Linked DNA regions of Homo sapiens: regions 1 and 3 are each linked to region 2. A link means that fine-mapping ties the variant in region 2 to the plasma level of a protein whose gene starts in the linked region. Region 2 holds a variant in brackets. A gene starts in each other region. All regions are shown on their forward strands.

Evidence for each region. PIP is the chance, under the fine-mapping model, that this variant and not a neighbour inherited with it causes the effect. Protein levels are from antibody-based Olink assays in UK Biobank. Linkage for the fine-mapping came from a reference panel and not from the study's own genotypes, which makes the PIPs less certain.
Region 1: COMP starts here. The variant in region 2 is fine-mapped to the plasma level of the COMP protein (UK Biobank, PIP 0.99).
Region 3: BCAM starts here. The variant in region 2 is fine-mapped to the plasma level of the BCAM protein (UK Biobank, PIP above 0.99).

Annotation. Positions count from the first base shown.
Region 1 is chr19:18,790,299-18,797,362 of GRCh38, forward strand. It overlaps COMP (cartilage oligomeric matrix protein), which reads right to left and starts at 1,007. Exons shown (of 19, transcript NM_000095.3): 1 at 893-1,007; 2 at 552-637; 3 at 264-315. The coding sequence starts at 971. RefSeq lists enhancers at 1-166, 167-747, 748-1,326, 4,882-5,411.
Region 2 is chr10:17,801,673-17,808,499 of GRCh38, forward strand. No RefSeq gene overlaps it. Among named protein-coding and RNA genes, the nearest start is that of MRC1, 4.3 kb to the right of the region's middle. The variant G/C (reference allele first, on the strand shown) is at 4,521.
Region 3 is chr19:44,804,837-44,811,939 of GRCh38, forward strand. It overlaps BCAM (basal cell adhesion molecule (Lutheran blood group)), which reads left to right and starts at 4,267. Exons shown (of 15, transcript NM_005581.5): 1 at 4,267-4,370; 2 at 6,389-6,510. The coding sequence starts at 4,289.

The sequences.
Region 1 (7,064 bases), not on the chromosome of region 2:
CTCCCCGGTCTCTTCTCTGAGTCTCTGTCCCGCTTTTCTGCCCCGTGGCGTCTCTCACTTCCCCAAAACTCTCTCACCGCTTCTGTCTCTTTTTGTCTCTGTTTCTACACACCCCATCCCATTCCCGTTCGTCCGTCCACCTCTCCGTCAGCCTCCATCTCCTTCCGTCTCTTTTCCTCCCCAGCTTTCCCTGGCTCTCTGTCTCTGTCTCTGTGTCTCTGTCTCCCGTCTCTTCTCTCTCCCGACCGCCCCGCCGCGCTCACCGCACGCGTCACACTCCATCACCGTGTTTTTCAGGAACGTGATCTCCCTGACCTGCAGGGGTGGGATGGAATCAGCGGGGTCCCAACCTCTCCTCATCCCTCGGGTCTCCCCTCTCTCTACCCCGGGGTCCCTTTCTACAGCCTCTTTTCGCCAAGGACTCCCTACCCGCCGACCCCCTTCCCTCCCCATCTCCTCTCCACCTTCTCGGGTACTTCCTCTCTCCTCGCTGGGAACTGAGACCCCCTTCCGTTCCCTGGCACTCCCTGCCCCGCACCCGGGCCCCGCACCTGCTGCCGCAGCAGCTCCCGCACGTCCTGCAGCGCCGCGTTGGTTTCCTGCAGTTCCCGAAGCATCTGCGGGCCCAGGTCTGAGCCTGCGGCGGCAGGGGACCTGGTGAGGCGTCATGGGGCCGGGGAATCCCACCACCAACTCCCACCGTTGCAGCGAACCCGGACCTCCGAGGCCCCACTGCGCTCCTCTAGTCTCGGTCCCGCCACCTGCTTTCTGCGCCCGGCACGTCCCCTACGAACAGTCCGTGAGCCCCAAACAGCCTGGATCCCGGGCCTCTCACGGGTCCTACAGTCCGTTGTGGGGCCGTGGGCACGGCGCGGGTGCTAACGCGGCTTACCCAACGGGCTCTGGCCCTGTCCGGACGCGCCGAGGGCAGCCAGGGTGAGCAGAAGAACGCAGGCGGTGTCGGGGACCATGGCGGTGGCGGGGAGCTGGGTGGCTGCTCGCTTTCTACCGCCCACGAGGCCCGCGGGGCCTATTTATCCCCAAGGCACGGCCGGCCCCAGGGACGGCCCACCACAGCCCTGCCCAACGTCCAGCCTCAAGGTAAACAGATGGCGCTGGCCCCTGCGTTCAAGTCCCCGCCCGGAATGCCCCGCGAAGTCGCCCGCGGCTGAATCCGACATGGTGGGGAAACTGAGTCCCGGGGTCTGTGGAGAGAGCTGGTGGGGCAGGGAGTCAGGGGGTACTGCCCCCACTTTCATTCACTGTGTGTGTGCGTCTGTGTGTGTGTGTGTGTGTGTGTGTGACGGGGTGTGGCTGTATCGCATCCTCTTGCTTCAGTCTCCCATGTAGCTGGGACTACAAGCCCGCACCACCAAGTCCAGCTAATTTATTTTTATTTTTATTTTTATTTTTAGAGACCGGGTCTGGCTATGTCCTGCAGGCTAGTAGTCTCAAACTCCCGGCCTCAAGCGATACTCCCCACATAACTGGGATTACAGGATCCAGCCATAGCATTCAGCTCATTGATTGATTGATTGATTGAGTGCTTGCTGTATGCCAAACCTGAGTTCCAGTTCCAAACAAGGCAGGCTCCATGGCCACGCTCTCAGCTCACACTTCGGGAAACAGAGTCACCAGCGTCTGAAAAAATAGGTCCACCCACTATGGATCAGACTGACTGGCCCTCCACTCCTCCTGAAGTGCTTCAAAACTGGGTAAGTTGCTGGGTGCGGTGGCTCACACCTGTAATCCCAGCACTTTGGGAAGCCAAGGCGGGCAGATCACCTGAGGTCAGGAGTTTGAGACCAGCCTGGCTAACATGGTGAAACCCCATCTCTACTAAAAGTACAAAAATTACCCAGGCGTAATTCCTCCCTTGCACAATGGAGGTAATAAGTTAATAATTATTAATTAATGATTAATAGTAATGATGATTATGATGATGAATGGAAAATAGGGGAGGGGCAGTTGAGACCTGGGACTCTCAATTTTCCTGCCTCTGTCCAAGGAGGCCGCTTCTGGCCCCAACGCTGGAGGGCTGCAAATGACTCCCCCCAACCCAACTCATTGCTGGTGTTCCCTCCCCTCCCCATGGTCCCTCGGCTGGTGGAGGAGGGGACAGCGTTCAGGATCTTGCCCCAACCCCTGTCCAAGGGGACAGGCCCACTTGGTTTTCCAATCTGCGCAATGGGGTGTGAGGCCCCCATCTGGAGGGGAGCAAGTTAAAGGGCTCTAGCAAGGGGAGGTCCGGGGCTTCTGTTTGTCCAGGCTGTGCCATACCTTCCAAACTGTGCTCCAGCTGCTGTGGGAACAGCCTGTAATAAAAATAAAAGTTACCGCTAACTGGCCAGCCACACTCTGGAGTTACAAAACCCCTTAACCTCCTGCAATCAGTTAACACTCTCCACTCCCACCTTCCAGTACTCACAGCGTCTATTCTATAGACAGAGAAACTGAGGCCCAGAGAGAAAAAGTGACTGGCCTAAGGCCACTGCCCGAGGGCAGGGGTGAATCTAGACTCAGAGCCAGATATGTTTTCTGGGGAGCCTACAGAGAAGTCACCGAGGGCTTCCTGGAGGAGGTAGCAAGGAGACAGACATAAAAGAAAAGGAGGACTTGGATCAGCAGAGGGAAAAGGTGAGGGCAGTTTTGGTGGAGGGAAGCATGTGAAGCTTGGAGGTGGGGACATTTCTAGACACAATAATTATTTCACAAACATCAAGGACTGTTGTGTGTCATGTCTCCTGTGCTGGGTGATGGGCACACAGGGTGAAGAAGCCAGACCCAGTCTCTCCTTCAAATGGGGAGCCCAGTGGGCTCATGGCTGTGACGGGACACACAGACAATGGTAGGAGTCCCCAGGAAATTGATCTGTTTGAAAGGGGATGGGTCAGGGCGGGCTTCTGGAGGAGGAGGGACCACCAAGCTGAGGACCGGATGATGAGGAGGACACAGCCAGGCAGAGGTAGCAGAAAGTCATTCCAGGTAGAGGAAACAGCATAGGCAAAGGCCCTGAGGCAGGAACCAACCTGGCCCGTTGGATGGACTGACCTCAAGGTGACAAGCTCTTGGGGCTCAGTGAGAAGCAGGAGATGAGGCTGTGTGTGAAAGGGCAGTGCTGGTGGTGTGGGGCTCCAGTGGTCTCCCGAGGGTAATGGGGAGCCACAGAGAGTGCGTGAAGAGAGACAGGCCTATAAGTGGAGTGTTGGTGGAAGCAGCTGGTCCCAGCCAGAGCATTTCCAATGAAGCCTGTCCTCAATAGTGCCTGCCCTGCCTGCTGCCTACATTGGGGCCATGAGCTCACCTCCTGTTTTCCTTGGCCTTCAGCACACCTGGGGGCCGCTCCTGGCAGCACTGGAATTCTCGGGAAAACCACAGCTCCAGTGGGGCCTGGGGGCTGGCATATGCTGCACACAGCTAGGACAGGAGCACATGGAAGCCAGGCCCCTGCCACAGGCTGGTCACAGTGCTGGGGCTTGGACACACGTGGCCTTATCCATGGCTGGGCCACGGGGAGTTGCAGGGAAGGGCATTCCAGGCGGAGGGAACTACAAAGGTGGAGTTCCTGAGGGTGTCCCAAGATCGGACAACAGAGGCCCGGAAAGGGGATGTCTGGGGTCACACTCCTGCCTCCTGGATCTCGCCAGCCCTGAAATCCCCCTTCTAGGCAGCAGTCCCCTCCTCCTGTGCACACCACACTTGCCTCAGATTACAGAATAACTCACTGTAGGTGTCATTCTGGGCCTTTGTACCTGCTGTTCCCCCCACCTCGTACAAACTCCTCCATCCTTCAAGGTCCAGCTATAATGTCCCCTCCTCCAGGAAGCCTTCCCTGCTGATATTCTCCAGATAACCTTCCAGCCTAGCCATGATCCTCGGGACTGTGAGTGTCTGTGGTTTGCTCTGTCCCTCCGAGCCTGAGGGGCTCCCACCCAGGGGCCTGGACTGGTGTAGAAAGGTTAGGCTGGAGGGCTTGGTGAGCCGGGACAGCATCCCTATGATTCGTGTTCATTACTATTTTTTTTTTTTTTTTTTGAGATGGAGTCTCACTTTTGTCGCCCAGCTGGAGTGCGATGGTGCAATCTCGGCTCACTGCAACCTCTGCCTCCTGAGTTCAAGTGATTCCCCTGCTTCAGCCTCCTGAGTAGCTGGGATTACTGGCACCTGCCACCACGCCCAGCTAATTTTTTTATATTTTTAGTAGAGACGGGGTTTCACCATGTTGGCCAGGTTGGTCTCGAACTTCTGACCTCAGGTGATCCACCTGCCTCAGCCTCCCAAAGTGCTGGGATTACAGGCGTGAGCCACCGCGCCTGGCCATTACTACTTTTTATAATTAATGTAATGTCATTACTATTTTTTTTTTTTTTTAAAATAGAGATGGGGGTCTTATTATGTTGCCCAGGCTAGTCTCGAACTCCTGGGCTCAACAGATCCTCCTTCCTCGGCCTCTCAAAACCCTGGGATTTCAGCCACTGCACCCAGCCAACATTATCATATGAATCCTAGTAACCCCTGCCACCTCTGTACTTGATATGGCAGGGAAGGGGGCCACACAGCCTGGGTTCAAATATTGGTGAGCATGGCCTTACTGTGTGACCTAGGACAAGTCACTTAACCTCTCTGTGCTTCAGTTTTCTCACCCATAAAATGAGGATGATCACTGTTGAGAGGATTGAATGAGCTGACCCATGGAAATCCTTCAGCCCAGCGCCCAGCTCCAGCGCTACTAGCGTGCTTATTCCATATGAAATTTATACACCGTGGGCCAGTGTGGTGGCTCACACCTATAATCCCAGCACTTTGGGAGGCCACAGCAGGTGGATCACCTGAGGCCAGGAGTTCGAGACCAGTGTGGCCAACGTGAAACTCCATCTCTACTCAAAATACAAAAATTAGCTGGACGTGGTGGCGCGTGCCTGTAATCCCAGCTAATCGGGAGGCTGAGGCAGGAGAATCACTTGAACCGGGGAGGCAGAGGTTGCAGTGAGCCGAGATCACATCACTGCACTCCAGCCTGGGCGACCGAGTGAGACCTTGTCTCAAAAAAACAAAACAAAACAAAAAAACTTATACCCTGTGCCTGTCGCTTATACCTCAGATCGTTCTTATTTCTATCTTACTCAGAGAGGAGAAGAGACAGTCTGAGGTCACACAGCCAGAATTAGAACTGAGGCATGCAAGACCCTCAAGCCCTTCATACCCGCCCTCTCTGTCCTTGCCACAGAAACAGAATCCAGCATTTCGCTGGCCCGAGCCCCTCATTAACTGGGATGTCTTCTCGGCCCAGGACCTCCTGGCCAGAGCATCTGGCCGGCGCCCCAGCCAGCCCCACACCAGGCCCCGTGGTTCCAGGAGCCCGGCCAGGCTGGGGAAGAGGGACGGGTGCCTGCATGATGGGGCCCCGGGGCCCTTCCTGGCAGACGTCTGCTCAGCCAGGAGACGTGTGGGCGCCCCGGCTCCCTGCCTCCCGCCCCCACCGTTGCCTGCCTTTGTGAATGCAGAAGGAAAGTATGTTGTGAAGGCAGCCGCCCTGCCCTGGGCGGGCCGGGCTGTAGGCCCCCAGTCTGCGGAATTCATCAGGGCGGCAGGGGAGGGCAGCTTGGCGACCTCTGCATCCTCAGCCTGCCTTGAACTGGGAGAGACGTACTGGAGGCATCTCTCTAGAAGGAACAAAAGGCAGGGGTGGGATGGGGGGCTCTGAGCTTTGAAGTCCAGGAGACGCCCCCCGACTGGCCGTGTGACCTTTGGCAGGTGCCACCTCCTCTCCCAGTCTCCTTTTTTTTTTTTTTTTTTTTGAAACAGGGTCTTGCTCTGTTGCCTGGCCTGAAGTACAGTGACAATCATAGCTCACTCATTGCAGCCTCCAACTTCTGGGCTCAAGTGATCCTCCCACCTCAGCCTCCCAAAGTGCTGGGATCACAGATGTGCACCACTGCACCCAGCCCCATTCTCCTTTTACTCAGTCCCTACCCCCATTGCATCCCAGGCTCTACTGGATGGCGATAAAGGAAGAAGACAACAATAAATACAGTGGCTACAGTTTTCTTGAGCAAGTGCCAAATGCTTGAAACCTTACCACTCAGCCTTTGTGGGTTTTCTCTTTCTGTCATCCCTTAAGTCCCAGAAGGCAGGAATTTGTCATCATGGGAGACAGTGGGGCACAGTGATGAAGGTCTCAGTCTCTGGCATCAGAGCCTGAGTTTCATATCCCAGCTCTGCTGTGGTACATGAGGCAAGTTGCTTAACCTCTCTGTGCCTCAGTTTCTTCTTTTTTCCTTTATTTCTTCTTCTTTTTTTTGCCACCTTCGAAAGTTTCTTATAATGTAAAATTTTACTTCTCAGGTTACTATACTGAAGAGTTGCTTCAGGAGAGAAAGAATTTCACCAGAGGCCGGGCGTGGTGGCTCACGTCTGTAATCCCAGCACTTTGGGAGGCCAAGGAGGGCGGATGACCTGAGGTCAGGAGTTCAAGACCAGCCTGGCCAACATGGTGAAACCCTGTCTGTACAAAAGTACAAAAATTAGCCGGGCATGATGGCAGGTGTCTGTAATCCCAGCTACTTACTTAGGAGGCTGAGGCGGGAGAATTGCTTGAACTCAGGAGGCGGAGGTTGCAGTGACCCGAGACTGCACCATTGCACTCCAGCCTGGGCGACAGAGTAAGACTCTGTGTCAAAAAAAAAAAAAAAAAAAAAAAAAAAAAAAAAATTCACTAGGAACAGATAGGAATTTCACAATATTCAATTGATACTGGTTTCTTTCTTTTTTCTCTTTTCCTTCCTTCCTTCCTTCCCTTCCTCCTTCCTCCCTCCCCCTCTCCCTTCCTTCTTCCCTCCTCCCTGTCTCTCTCTCTTCCTCTCTGTCTCCATTTCTTTCTTGTTTTTGAGGTAGGTTCCCGCTCTGTCACCCCAGCTGGACCGCAGTGGTACAAACACAGCTCACTGTAGCTCAAACTCTTGGGCTCAAGCCGTCCTCACACCTCAGCCTCCTGATTAGCTGGGGCCAAAGGCATGTGCCACCACACCTGGCTAATTTTTTTTATTTTGTAGAGACAGGGTCTT
Region 2 (6,827 bases):
TCTAAATCATACAGCGCCCCTTCAGGTTGAACAATGCACAACCTCTACATCCCTGAGTACTAGTGATTAATAGCTTTAGTAACCTGAGATATTTGTATTAACAATTATTTACAAGAGCTTTTACATATATTACCATATCCTGAAGATTATTTTTTGGAAATTTCATTAATTTGTCATTTGACAAATTTGAGTGCCTGTTATAGACTAGGTATGGTTTTATATGAATTTGAGGATAATATTTACTAAAGTAACACTTGCTGTGAAAGTGTGCATTTATATATACACACATCTTAATTTCCCAAGATATGCCTATTTTTAATAAGATTATTTTTTATTTTAACTTGTAATTATTCTTATATTGAAATGGAAATAATGGATTTTTAAGGAATGCCTTCTTTCTCTACAAAACTTTTTTCTTTTAAATATTTAACTCAGATACCTTAGAGGTGTTCAGAATATTTGAGTGAATAAATAGAAAATTTGCGTTTCAAATTGCTAAAAATTATACATAATCTTACATAGTAAGTGTTGTTCTGAAGAACCAGCCCAACATTGTTGTGTCTTGGTTTCCATCTGTAAAGTATAGGTCACTTTCAGATTATAAACACATGTTTAATCTTATTCTTAAAATTTGTTTCTGCCGGGCGCAGTGGCTCACGCCAGCACTTTGAGAGGCCGAGGCGGGTGGATCACGAGGTCAGTAGATCGAGACCATCCTGCATGCTGTCTAACACGGTGAAATCCCATCTCTACTAAAAATACAAAAAATTAGCCAGGCGTAGTGGCGGGTGCCTGTAGTCCCAGTTACTGGGGAGGCTGAGGCTGGAGAATGACGTGAACCCAGGAGGCGGAGCTTGTAGTGAGCTGAGACTGCGCCACTGCCCTCCAGCCTGAGTGACAGAGCGACACTCCATCTCAAAAAAAAAAAATTTGTTTCAAAAATTAAATGGGTCAAATAGCCTTTTAATTAAATTACTTTGTAAAATTTAGTATATTAAAACGATGTGTGCCAAGACAAAACCAAATGAAACAAAGTATTGGTTATAGAAATACAAAATTCAAAGGTCCTTCAAATACTATGAATCTACACACTGTTGATTACAATAAGTCTAAATATGTTATCTGAAGACAGTTACAATTAAAGCCTAATTTTATGTAAGTAATTGAATGCAAAGAAATTGGATTGCTATGATATAGTAGTTTTCTATTAAACTGTAAATGCATTGTTGATGTTTTGCTATGGTTTTGGTAAGGACTGAAAAATATGAGGTATAAGAACATCTAAATTTTTAAATTTTTACTCAAAAATATCTTTTTTTTCTTTTGGCTGGTAGGAATTATGTTGATAAGAGTTGAATAAATTTGTTCATTAAAAGATAGGCTTACTGAAAACACCATTTCTGAAGGGCTTACCAGTTTTATCTGTGAGAAATGATGTAACAGGTTATGAAAAATTTTGCCCAGCTATTTTTCTTGGAACTATTTCAGAGCAAAGCAGACACTAAGTTCATCATACGTGAAACTGAGTGGGTAGGAGGTGGCTGGTGTTTGAGAAAGTCTAGGAGGAAATGACACAGTTGATTGTCTTGCCAATAAAAAAATGAGAATTTCCTTTATATTTTAGCTTGAAGAAAGGACTAGTTAAAAATAACCACCATCATCAATAGCTAACCAAAATTCAGAACCAGAACTTAGTAGAAGGGTGTAGACAGGATGGCATGAGTTGGATTTTTAAAAAAGTTTGGTAAAGGATACATAACACAATTATTATTGTAGTCATTTCAACTGTACAATTCAATGGCTCTAAACATATTCACCATGTTGTTTAACTATCACCACTCTGTATTTCCAGAACTTTTCATCATCCAACATCCAATGGGCTCTGTGCCCATTAAACAATAACTCTCCATTCTCCTCCATCCTCCACCTCCCACCCCTTAGTAAACTCTCTTCTTCCTATGTCTCTGAATTTACCTATTCTATATACCTCACATAAGTGGAATCACATAATATTTGTCCGTTTATGTTTGGCTTATTTCACTTAGCAAAATGTTGAAAGGTTGTACATATAGCAGGTATCAGGATTCCTTTTTACGGCTCTATAATATCCCACTGTATGTTCATACCACATTTGTTTATCTGCTAACAGACACCTGAGTTGCTTCTACTTTTTGGCTATCATAAGTAAAACTTCTTTGAACATTGTTGTACAAATATGTGTTTGAGTCCCTAATTTCAGTTCTTCTGGGTATATACCTAGAAGTAGAATTGCTGGATCGTATGATAATTATAGTGTAACTTTGTGAGGCATTGCCAAGCTGTTTTCCGCAGTGGCTACACCATTTTACATTCCCGCCAGCAATGCCCGAGGGTTCCAATTTCTCATATTCTCACCATCACTTGTTATTTTCTGTTTTTTTAAAGTAATAATTCTTTTGGGTGTGAAATTCTATTTCATTGTAGTTTTGATTTACATTTCCCTAATGACTAATGATGTTGAGCATCTTTACATGTGCTTAGCTTATTGGCCACTTGTATATCTTCTTTGGAGAATTATCTGTTCAGGTCCACCGACCATTTTGTATTTGGTTTTGTTGTGGTTATTGAGTTGTAGTTGTTAATATATTCTGGATATTCATCCCTTAATCAGATATGTGATTTACAGATATTTTCTATTTTGTGCTGTCTTTTCACTTTCTAGATAGTGTACTTTGGTGGACACAGTTTTTAACTGTGATAAAGGCCTTTTTATCTACTTTTTTATTGCTTGTGTTTTTGGTATCCAATCCAAGAAATCATTGTCAAATCCAATGTTGTGAAGATTTTATTTCCTGACGTTTTCTTCTAAGAGTTTTATAGTTTTTAGCTCTTATGTTTAGGCATTTGATCCACTTTGGGTTAATTTTTGTATTTAATGTAAGGTAAGAGTCCAATTTCATTCTCTTTCCTGTGGATGGCCAGTTTTCCCAGCACAAATGCTGTTCTTTCCTCATTGAATGCTTTTGGCACCTTGTTGGAAATCAACTGCCCACATAGGTTTATTTCTGGCCTCTCTATTGTATTCCATTGGCCTATATGGCTATCCTTATGCCTGTACCACACTGTTTAGATTACTGTCATTTTGTAGTATGATTTGAAATCAGGAAGTGTGAATCGTTCAACTTCATTCTTTTTCAAAATTGTTTTGGCTGTGCAGACTCCCATGAAATTCCATATGAACTTTAGGATGGGGTTTTTCATTTCTGCAAAAAAAAAAAATCATTGGGATTTTGATAGGGATTGCATGAATCTATAGATTATATTGGATAATATTGACATCTTAACAATATCAAGTCTTCCATTTCATGAACACAGGGTATCTTTTCATTTATTTAGGTCTTTTTCTTTCAGCAACCATTTGTAGTTTTCAGTGGACAAGTCTTTTGTCTACGTAGTTAAATTTATTCCTAAGTATTTTGTTCTTTTTGATTCTATTGCAAATGGAATTTTCTTAATTTTATTTTCAGATTGTTCATTACAAGTGTATCAAAATTCAACTGATTTTTGTGTTTTGATTTTGTGTCCTGCAACTTTGTTAAATTTGTTAGTGCTACAGTTTGTGTGTGTGGTGTGTATGTGTGTGTGTGTGGCGTGTGTATGTATGTGTGTGTGGTGTGTGTGTGTGGTGTGTATGTGTCTATTGTGTATGTGTATGTGGTATTTGTGTGTGGTGTGTGTGTGTGTGTGTGTGTGTAAGCTTTAGGACTTCCTACATTTAAAATCAGGCCATCTGTGTACAGAGATAATTTCACTTCTTCCTTTTTAATTTGGATGCTTTTATTTATTTTTTTCTTTCCTACATGCTCTTATTAGAACTTCCAGTACTAAGTTGAAGAGAAGTGATGAAAGCAAATAAAAGCACCAATCAGAACACACAGTCCTGACATTTGGAGGGCTAAATCCTTGTTGCCCGGCCTGGCCTCACCTAGCTGCACTGGGCGTGTGGGCTGCTTCCCCCTTCACAGCTGCCTGACACAGCCATAACCACAGGGAGAAGCTGAAATTCGCTGAAATGTACCAGCCTCTTTATCAAGCTCTCCCTTGGATGCTCCAAGTTTCTGACTAGACTAGTTCCCAAATACAGATGGTCCTTGACTTAGGATTGTTAGACATAATGATTTACCCACTTTATGATGATGTGAAATAGAAATGGTGCATTCAGTAGAAAATGTATTTCGAATACCCATACACCCATTCTGCTTCTCACTTTTAGTACCATATCCAATAAATTACGAGATACTCAACACTGTATTATAAAATAGGTTTTGTTAGATGATTTTGAAATAGAAGAGTTCCCTTATGACCCTCGCAGGGGGTGCGACAGGAATGAGGCTTGCTCCTTTGGTGCCCTGCTGCTCAAACCCCTAGGGGGGAGCATGCAGCATGCAGATGGGCAGGTGCAGAGGCTGTGGGGAGTGCTTTTGGGCTCCACCCCACGGCAGCATCTAGGACTCCTGAAGCCCAAGTGGGCGTGTGTTACA[G/C]TGTGCTCTTTCAGCTATACCATCTGCAGACAGCTTGTGTTAGTCAGCTCAATAGACCCTCTGCCTTATCACAAGGACAGGGAGGCAGTGTGACAGCCTGAGTTCTTGCCCAGTGTACTGGAAGAATCAGATCACATGTGGGCTGGAGGGTTGAGTGCAAGGTTTTATTGAGTGGTGTAGGTGGCTCTCAGCGAGATGGATGGGGAACTGGAAGTGGGGAGTGGAGTGGGAAGGTGGTCTTCCCCTGGAGCCAGGCTGCCTAACCCCCCAGACTATTCTCCAACCACTGCTGGCCAAACTCCCCTTGGTGTCCAGATGTCCTTCTTCTCTCTTTCTCTGCTGCGCCACCCCACTGCTCTCCACTGCTCTATTCCTTCACTCTTCTCAATGTTTAGCGCTTGTGTCTATGCCCATTAAGGTCTCAGGTTTTTATGGGCACAGGATGCGGGGTGTGGTGAATCATAGTGGTCTTGGAAATGTAACATTTGCGCATGAAAACAGGAGTGCCTGTTCCCACTTAGGTCCGTGGGCACAGGTCCGAGGGTGGAGCCCTCGCCAGGGATCCTGCCCTTCTCTACCTAGCACTTCTCTGCCTCCTGTCCCTATCAATTTTGCCCAGTTGGAAGCTAATGTAAGTGTTCTCAACACGTTTAAGGTAGGCTACGCTGAGCCGTGATGTTTGGTAGGTCAGGTGTATTAAGTGCATTTTTGACTTAGCATATTTCAACTCACATTGGGTTTAACAGGGCCTAATTTGATCATGAGTAGAGGAGCACCTGCAGTTACTTCAGTCAGTTCCTGTCCATTTGATGGCTGCTTAGATGGAGGGATGAATTCCTGGAGTTTCCCACACCACCATCTTCTGTGACATCCCTTCCCCAAGATTTGGATTTATTTTTTGCCCCAGTGGCCTCTTGTAGCCTGATAAATCTTTGTTTCAACGAGGTCAAGGTCATGGGGTAAATTCTTTGTGGGGTGGTTGGCTGCATTTTGTTTAAACTTCACAGATTTTAGTACTGATCCTAATTTTTAATTTTACTAATGTGATATACACACTTATGTAATTAAAAAACAAACCCTGGGCCAGGTATGGTGGCACACGTCTGTAATCCCAGCACTTTCAGAGGCCAAGGCGGGCGGATCACTTGAGGTCAGGGGTTTGAGACCAGCCTGGCCAACATGGTGAAACCCCGTCTATACTAAAAATGCAAAAAATAGCTGGGCATCATGGCACGCGCCTGTAATCCCAGCCACTTGGGAGGCTGAGGTAGGAGAATCGCTTGAACCCGGGAGGTGGAGGTTGCAGTGAGCCCAGATTGCACCACTGCACTCCAGCCTGGGCGACAGAGCAAGACTCTGTCTCAAAGAAACAAACCAACCCTGAATGTGATTATATACATAATTCAATTAAATGTATTTGCTTCTGAAATATATATAAATGTAAATTAGGCAGTCACTTTTGTATATGATTTATTTATATTTGAAAGCCACAAATGACCCATTTAAACTATTATTTTCATAAGCCAGTGAAACAATGTCTGAGAAACATTTTTGTTTTGTCTGTTCTGTTCTATAACCATCATTTTTTTTTTCAGTCATGTACAGCCTTAGTGACAAAGAAACTTTGGTCCTCTGTCCTACATTTTCACTATCTTTTTCCCTCCGGTCAGGATAATCTCAAATTTACATGTTAAAAACAATCAGTAAGAGAACTACATCACATTTCTAATAGGATGGAAACTTTTCAACTTTATCACAAAGACAACGAATGTGGAGGCTTTCCGTTTGAAGATAAAACTATTCATTTAAAAAATTTTAAAAATTACAATGTTTCCAGTAGCTTCTTTTTGAATTACTAACATATTCCACACTCTAGTAACGGTTTGGCCAGCTAATCGTTAGTTTCTGCTTTAAAATGTTCTAAATTCCTGTTCTACTTTTGAAAAATGACAACATAAATGTTTGGAGGGTTATTTTCTGCTTAATGAAAGATCTAGAAACATATTTTATTCTAAGAAAGAATTCCACTTGCCTTTAAATAAAGATATACCTTTTGACCAAACAATCAGATTTTCTTTTTCTTTTTTTTCTTTTCTTTTTTTTTTTTGAGATGGAGTTTCGCGTCTGTCGCCCAGGCTGGAGTGTAGTGGTGCGATCCTGACTCACTGTAACTTCCACTTCCCAGGTTCAAACGATTCTGTTGCCTCAGCCTCCTGAGTAGCTGGGCTTACAGGTGTGCATGATCACACCCGGCTAACTTTTGTATTTTTAGTAGAGACGGGTTTTTGCCATGTTGACCAGGCTGGT
Region 3 (7,103 bases), not on the chromosome of region 2:
TTGTTGGCTTCAAGAGTGGGCAACAGAGGCTTTCAGACAGTAGGAATTTCCTTAAATGTGGGAAGGAGCTGCAGATGCTAGGTAATCCTTCCCGCAAAATATGTACTATAGCCCGCTCCTTTGGTTTTTTTTGTTGTGTTTTGTTTTTTAGACAAGGTCTCACTCTTTCACCCAGGCTGGAGTGTAGTAGCACGATCTTGGCTCATTGCAGCCTTGATCTCCCCAGTTCAAGCGATCCTCCCACCTCAGCCTCCTGAGTAGCTGGGACTACGAGCACAAACCACCACCACCCCCGGTTAATATGTATTTTTTGTAGATACAGGGTTTTGCCATGTTGCCCAGGCTGGTCCCAAATTCCTGGGCTCAAGCGATCCACCTGCCTCAGCCTCCCAAAGTGCTGGGATTGTAGGTATGAGCCACCACAGCTGGCTTTGAATGTTCAATATCAATAGGCCCTTTGCAGAAGTTCTTATCGAAACTTTCCCCGCACAACCGTCTCTCATTGTACAATCAAAAAATGCATTCACACTGCCACCCAATACAAAAAATTTCAATAGTTCCATTTTCCAGATCTGAGACTGGAATCAGGGAAGAACCATTCCCCTCCAAATATGTCATTCTCCCCATATTCCACAAGCTGTGAGCTAGTTGTAAAGTTAATCGTCACACACTGTGTGAAAAATAATGGGAAAAAAGGTCAAGAAAAGATAAGTCAGCCAGGCACTGTGGCTTCCGCCTGTAATCCCAACATTTTGGGAGGCTGAGGCTGGTGGATCACCTGAGGTTAGGGGTTCGAAACCAGCCTGGCCAACATGGTGAAACCCTGTCTCTACTAAAAACACAAAATTAGCCGGGCATGGTGGCGCATGCCTGTAATCCCAGCTACTTGGGAGGCTGAGGCAGGAGAATTGCTTGAACCTGGGAGGCGGAGGTTGCAGTGAGCCAAGATCACGCCATTGCATTCCAGCCTGGGCAACAAGAGTGAAACTCTGTCTCAAAAACAATGAAAAGGTAAGTCTGGCCAACCGTGGTGGCCCACACCTATAATCCCAGCACTTTGGGAGGCTGAGGTAGGAGGATCGCTTGAGCCCAGAGTTTCAGAAAAGATAAGCCTTGTTAGTTAAAATATGTGAGGATATACACCTGCGGCCGCATGGATGGAATTAGAACTTTTTTTTTTTTTTTTTTTTTTTTTGATACTGAGTCTCGCTCTGTCACCCAGGCTGGGGTGCAATGGCATGATCTCAGCTCACTGCAACCTCCACCTCCTAGGTTCAAGCAATTCTCCTGCCTCAGCCTCCCGAGTAGCTGGGATTACAGGCACCTGCCACAACCCCTGGCTAATTTTTTTATTTTAAGTAGAGAGGGGGTTTCACCATTTTGGCCAGGCTGGTCTCAAACTCCTGACCTCGGGTGATCCACCCACCTCGGCCTCCCAAAGTGCTGGGATTGCAGGCATGGGCCACCATGACTGGCCATTTTTATATTTTTTTGTAGAGACGGGGTTTCGCTATGTTGCCCAGGCTGGTCTCAAACTCCCGGGCTCAAGCAGTCCTCCCGCCTCAGGCTCCTAAATTGCTGGGATTACAGACGTGAGTCCCTGCGGCTGACCTGGACCTCAGCTTTTACCCTAAGTGAGACAGAAGTCATGGGAGGACCCTGGGGCAGAAGAGTGACATGAGTTGATTCACATGTAAAAGGAATCCTTCAGGCTGTTTTGTGAGAATAAATTACAGGGGACAAAGGCAGATGATGTTACAAGACTAGTTTCTGCAAGTCTGCAAGGGTCCACGGCTGCTGTTTTGGTGTTTCTGACTTTTCTCCTTCATACACATGCCATAGAGTTCTCCTCCCTCACCCAGAACCTCAGATGGCTAGGTTCTTCTTTTTTTTTTTTTTTTTTTTGAGACAGAATTTCACTCTTGTTGCCCAGGCAACATCGTGCAGTGGCACGATCTCAGCTCAGTGCAACCTCCACCTCCCAGATTCAAGCGATTCTCCTGCCTTAGCCTCCTGAGTAGCTGAGATTACAGGCATGTGCCACCACGCCCAGCTAATTTTGTATTTTTAGTAGAGATGCGGTTTCACCATGTTGGTCAGGCTGGTCTCGAACTCCTGACCTCAGGTGATCCACCCACCTCGGCCTCCTAAAGTGCTGGGATTACAGGCATGAGCCACAGCGCCCAGCCTCAGCTGGCTGGGTTCTTGAGGGAGGTGGAAGTGGGCGATGGCTGCTGAGAGGGCATGTACCAGGGTCCAGCCCAAACAGAAGGTGCACAGGCTGGGGACAGAAGAGCTAGGGTATGGGTGTCGGTGCTCACAGTGTGTGAGCTTGACAGCACCTGGGACTGTCTTGGAGTGCCGCCGCATTCCCCATGAGTGAGTTTGTATTGTATATCCTGGGATGCTCCAGTCTGGATGGAATCTGCACGTGAGTTTGTGTGCCTTGCAAACAAACCTTCCCTGAGCACCTGCACTGTGTCTGGTCTTGTGCTGGGCGGGGTGCCCAGGGGAGGAGCCCTTAGCTCACCACAGTGATCAAGACATCCCTGGCCCTGCCCTCACAGGCTCACAGTCCACTGAGGGAGACAGACCTATCCCCAGCCAGGGACCCCCAGAGTGTGCCGGGCTCAGGTGGGGGAGCCCAGAGGGGGAACCTGACCCAGCCAGGGAAGGCAGAGGGGACTTCCTGGAGGAGGGGATGGTACAGTTAATCCTAAAAGGTCTTTCCCAATGTAACAGTTGCTCTGTAGGATGGATGCAGTGGCTCATGCCTGTAATCCCAGCACTTTGGAAGGCAGGAGGATCACTTGAGCCCAAGAGTTGGAGACCAGCCTGGGCAACATAGTAATACCCTGTTTCTATTACCAAAAAAATACAAAAATTAGCTGGACATGGTAACACAAGCCTATAGTCCCAGCTACTTGGGAGGCTGAAGTGGAAGGATTGCTTGAGCCCAGGCGGTTGAGGTTTGAATGAGCTATGATTGCGCCCACTGCATTCCCGGCTGGGCAACAGAGCGAGACCCTGTCAAAAACAAAACAAACAAACAAAAAAAACGTTGGTCTCCTGTATGACCAATGGATAAAGTAACCTTGACCAGTCTAATAACTCCCAGGCTGACCTGTAATCCAAGCCTTCTCTGTATGTCTGAGCAGGCAAAGCCCAGCTCCAGGGCTACCTCAACCCCCAGGCTGATCAGAAGCTTGGGTAACCTCTCCCAGTGTGGCCAGCGACCCCCCACCCTCCCACGTTCTGACCACTGTCCTGGGCAACTAGTGACATCTAGTGGGGGATTTTGTCCCAGTCTGACCTGGCCTGTAGGGGCCTTGGGCAGTCGGACCTGTGACCCACGCTTCCTAGCAGTGGCTGGACTCCTCCCCCTTCCCGCAGGTGCCCTGGCCTCTTCCCCTGCCCTCCTCACCTGCTCTGGCCAGTCTGACTCCTCCCTTCCCCACAAGGTTGGGAGGGAATGAAGGAGAGAGCGGGAAGGAGGAAGGGAGGGTGGCATTCCTGGGATTCCCTGGATAGGGGGAAGAGTGGGAGGGCCTTCCATGGGTGAGCAAGCAGAGAGGGCACCCCGTACCCCACCCCCAGCCCCATCATCGAAGCGGCCTAGGAGGACCTGGATTTGAAGACCATTGAAAATAAGAGATTAAACCGGTTGATTCCAGGCTACTGGTCAGACGAGGAAAGCAGCCCAGAGCACTGACCACAGGGGAAAACATCTCCGGGCATACTGGGAGCAGCTGCTGGGGGCCACTGGTCAGGCTGCGGGGGTCACTGGTTGGACTGGGAGAGGCCAGTGCAGGCCACTCGGACGGCACGCTTGGGGCCATTAGTTACACTGGGAGAGGCCATCGCAGGCCACAGGTTGCAGTGGGGTCCTCTGGTTAAAATCGACGATGCCAGCCCAGGCTGCTGGTCACAGTGGGGACGAGTCCCCAAGGCCCCTGGTCAGAATAACGAGGAGAAGGTCCGCGATTGCCTGGTGAGATCCCAGCTCGGGTCACTGGCTACGCTGGTCGATCAGGCCCCCCGCTGCAGGCGCTGGTCAGTAAGCCCGGACAGCTCTAGGCTTGGGGGCGGACGAGCCCCGAGCCTGGCCCCGTGCACTGGGAGGTCCGCTCCGGGCAGTGGGAGGTCCTGGCCCCGCGCCCGGGCATCGGGGGACGAGGGGGGCCTGGAGGGCGGGGCGGGGCGGGGCTGCCGGGGGCGGGGCCTCTGGCTCCCAGCCCCGCAGCGGCCGAGCTGCAGCCCGGGCTCAGTCTCCGCCGCCGCCGTGAACATGGAGCCCCCGGACGCACCGGCCCAGGCGCGCGGGGCCCCGCGGCTGCTGTTGCTCGCAGTCCTGCTGGCGGCGCACCCAGGTATGGCTCGGGCTGAGGGCAAGGTGGGACTGGGGAGAGGCCCCTGGGGACCCCGGGAAAGCGAGGAGAAAGGGCTTTACCCTGACCCCAGGAAGCAAAATGTGGGGACCCCAAGGAGGAGGGATATGGGAGTGTTGGAAGGTACGCCTTCCAGTGAGAGAGATCTGGGGACAGCCAGGCAGGAGAGCTGGGGATACCCAGGCGGTGGATCAGAGACAACCAGAGAAGTCAGCCCCCTTCCCACTCAGCACCCTGGAATCTGGGTCCCACCTGCCTCCTCCCTCAGACCCTGGAATCTGGGCCCCCAGCCCCTCTTTCCTCAGACCCAGGAGTCCAGGCCTCCAGTGGCTAGAATAGCTTCCCCCAGGGCACAGAGGATCAAAACCCCAGGGCTCTCTCCCTCAAAGGTCCTCAAGTTTTGAGAGGTCCAGGGACCCCTTAGAGAAGCGAGGACCATGTGTCCCCACACCAGCGATCCACATGTATTTAGGAGTTTCCAGAGTCCAGTATAAAGAACCCGCCTCCCTCAGGAAAGGGCTGGAGCACCAGCCCCGGGCAGTGACAGTGGAACAAAGTGTTTCCAAGTGACAGGCCCCCTTCCTGGGGCCTCAGCTACATTTACACACCTGCATGAGGATAGAAGGAGAGGAGGCCGGGGGCTGGGGGGTGGGGGTGGGGGTGCTGGGGACAGAGGGACAGAGAGATGAGAGAGATTGGGGAAGAGAGAGGAACTCTCTGCCTCCACTTGTCTGCAGATCAGACCCAGCCTTAGGCACCAGCCTGGACCCCGTCACCCCTCCCTGGGGACAGGCTGGGGCCAGAGGTGAGCGCTTGGGAATCCAGGCCCCTGGCACACTCATGGTCAACAGTGGGTCCCCAGGGGTAGGGCTGGGCCAGATTGAGCAGAGAAGGGAAGGGAGTTTCTAAGAAGCACTGAGAGCTGATGCCAGGATGCCAGCCCAGAGGGTGAGGGAGGGTGGTGGTTTTTCTACAATAACTACTCCACCAGGCCCCAGCCTCCTCTTCCCTCTGATCCCAGGAGTCCAGGTGCCCAGCTTCCCAAGATCCTGGGCCTCAACCTTATCCTTTTGCAAGATGACTCGACTTATCCCGTTTGCTGTTGTATCAAACTGAGGGGGGCCAAGAGGCGGCTGGGGGCTCTGGCTCCAGGCCGGGCAGGTCTCAGCCAGCCTGTCCCTCCCACATTCCTGAAACCTGCCCAGCCCTGTCCCCCCTCACCGCCCCCACACATCCATCCCGCCTAAGCTCCGGGCCCAGCCGCAGCCCACACCCCAGCCCCTCACTCATGGGAGAGCGGAAGAGACCCAGGGACTGAGTGGTGCAGGTGCAGAGAGAGGCAGAGACAGGGACAGAGATGGAGACCCAAGAGGAGAGACACACGCAAAGGTGGAGACCAGGATGGAGAGAAACATTTATCCATCATCACAGAGGTGGCCCTGCCCAGGGTGCTGGAGGCAAATGGCTGAGCCAGGCCTGGCCCTGCCCTGGGGGGTGGCGTGTGCTCTGTTGGGATAAGCAAAGGCTGGTGCAGTATTACCCCAGGAGTGTTCAGCGGAGGCCACAGGGCCCTGTGCAGCCCAGAGGAGGAGCCCTGAGCTCTGCAAGTGCAGGGAGAGATGGATTTGAGACCCAGAGATGCAGGGAGAAGGGATGGAGGGCGAAAGGATCTCAGGGAGGAGGGGCTGGGGCCTAGACTCCTGGGTCTGAGGGAGGAGGGGCTGGGGCCTGGACTCCTGGGTCTGAGGGAGGAGGGGCTGGGGCCTAGACTCCTGGGTCTGAGGGAGGAGGGGCTGGGGCCTAGACTCCTGAGTCTGAGGGAGGAGGGGACAGGGGCCCAGATTCCTGGGTCTGAGGGAGGAGGGGCTGGCACCTGGACTCCTGGGTCTGAGGGAGGAGGGGCTGGGACCTGGACGCTTGTGTCCTGGGGGAGAGGGGACCCTGTCTGGAGGGCTCTTCCTGTTGGTGTGGTGGATGATAGCTCAGTTGCTCTCTTGCAGATGCCCAGGCGGAGGTGCGCTTGTCTGTACCCCCGCTGGTGGAGGTGATGCGAGGAAAGTCTGTCATTCTGGACTGCACCCCTACGGGAACCCACGACCATTATATGCTGGAATGGTTCCTTGTGAGTGCTTGGGGCTGGGGGGCCTGGAGTCAGGGCACAGCAGGGCAGCAAAGGTTCATTCTCTCATCAGTGCCTAAGGCCTGTAGAGATCCACCAAGCCACACTCCTTGTTACAGATGGGGTCACTGAGTCCCACTGAGGGGAAGGGATCTGCAAGGTGCCCCGTGTCTAGGCACAGCCAAGTCTAGAATGACATTGACCTGCTCTGGACTGCGGGCTCTTGAGAGAGAGAACAGAGACAGACATCAAGAAAGCAGAAGCCAGGCACGGTGGCTCACGCCTGTAATCCCAGCACTTTGGGAGGCCGAGGCGGGTGGATCACGAGGTCAAGAGATCAAGACTGTCCTGACCAACATGGTGAAACCCCGTCTCTACTAAAAATACAAAAATTAGCTGGGCGTGATGGCATGTGCCTGTAATCCCAGCTACTCAGGAGGCTGAGGCAGGAGAATCGCTTGAACCTGGGAGGTAGAGGTTGCAGTGAGCCGAGATCGAGCCAATGCTCTCCAGCCAGGCGACAGAGCAAGACTCTATCTCAAAAAAAAAGAGGAAAGAAAATGAGAGACAATCGGGAGAGGGAGAGACCAAGAGGA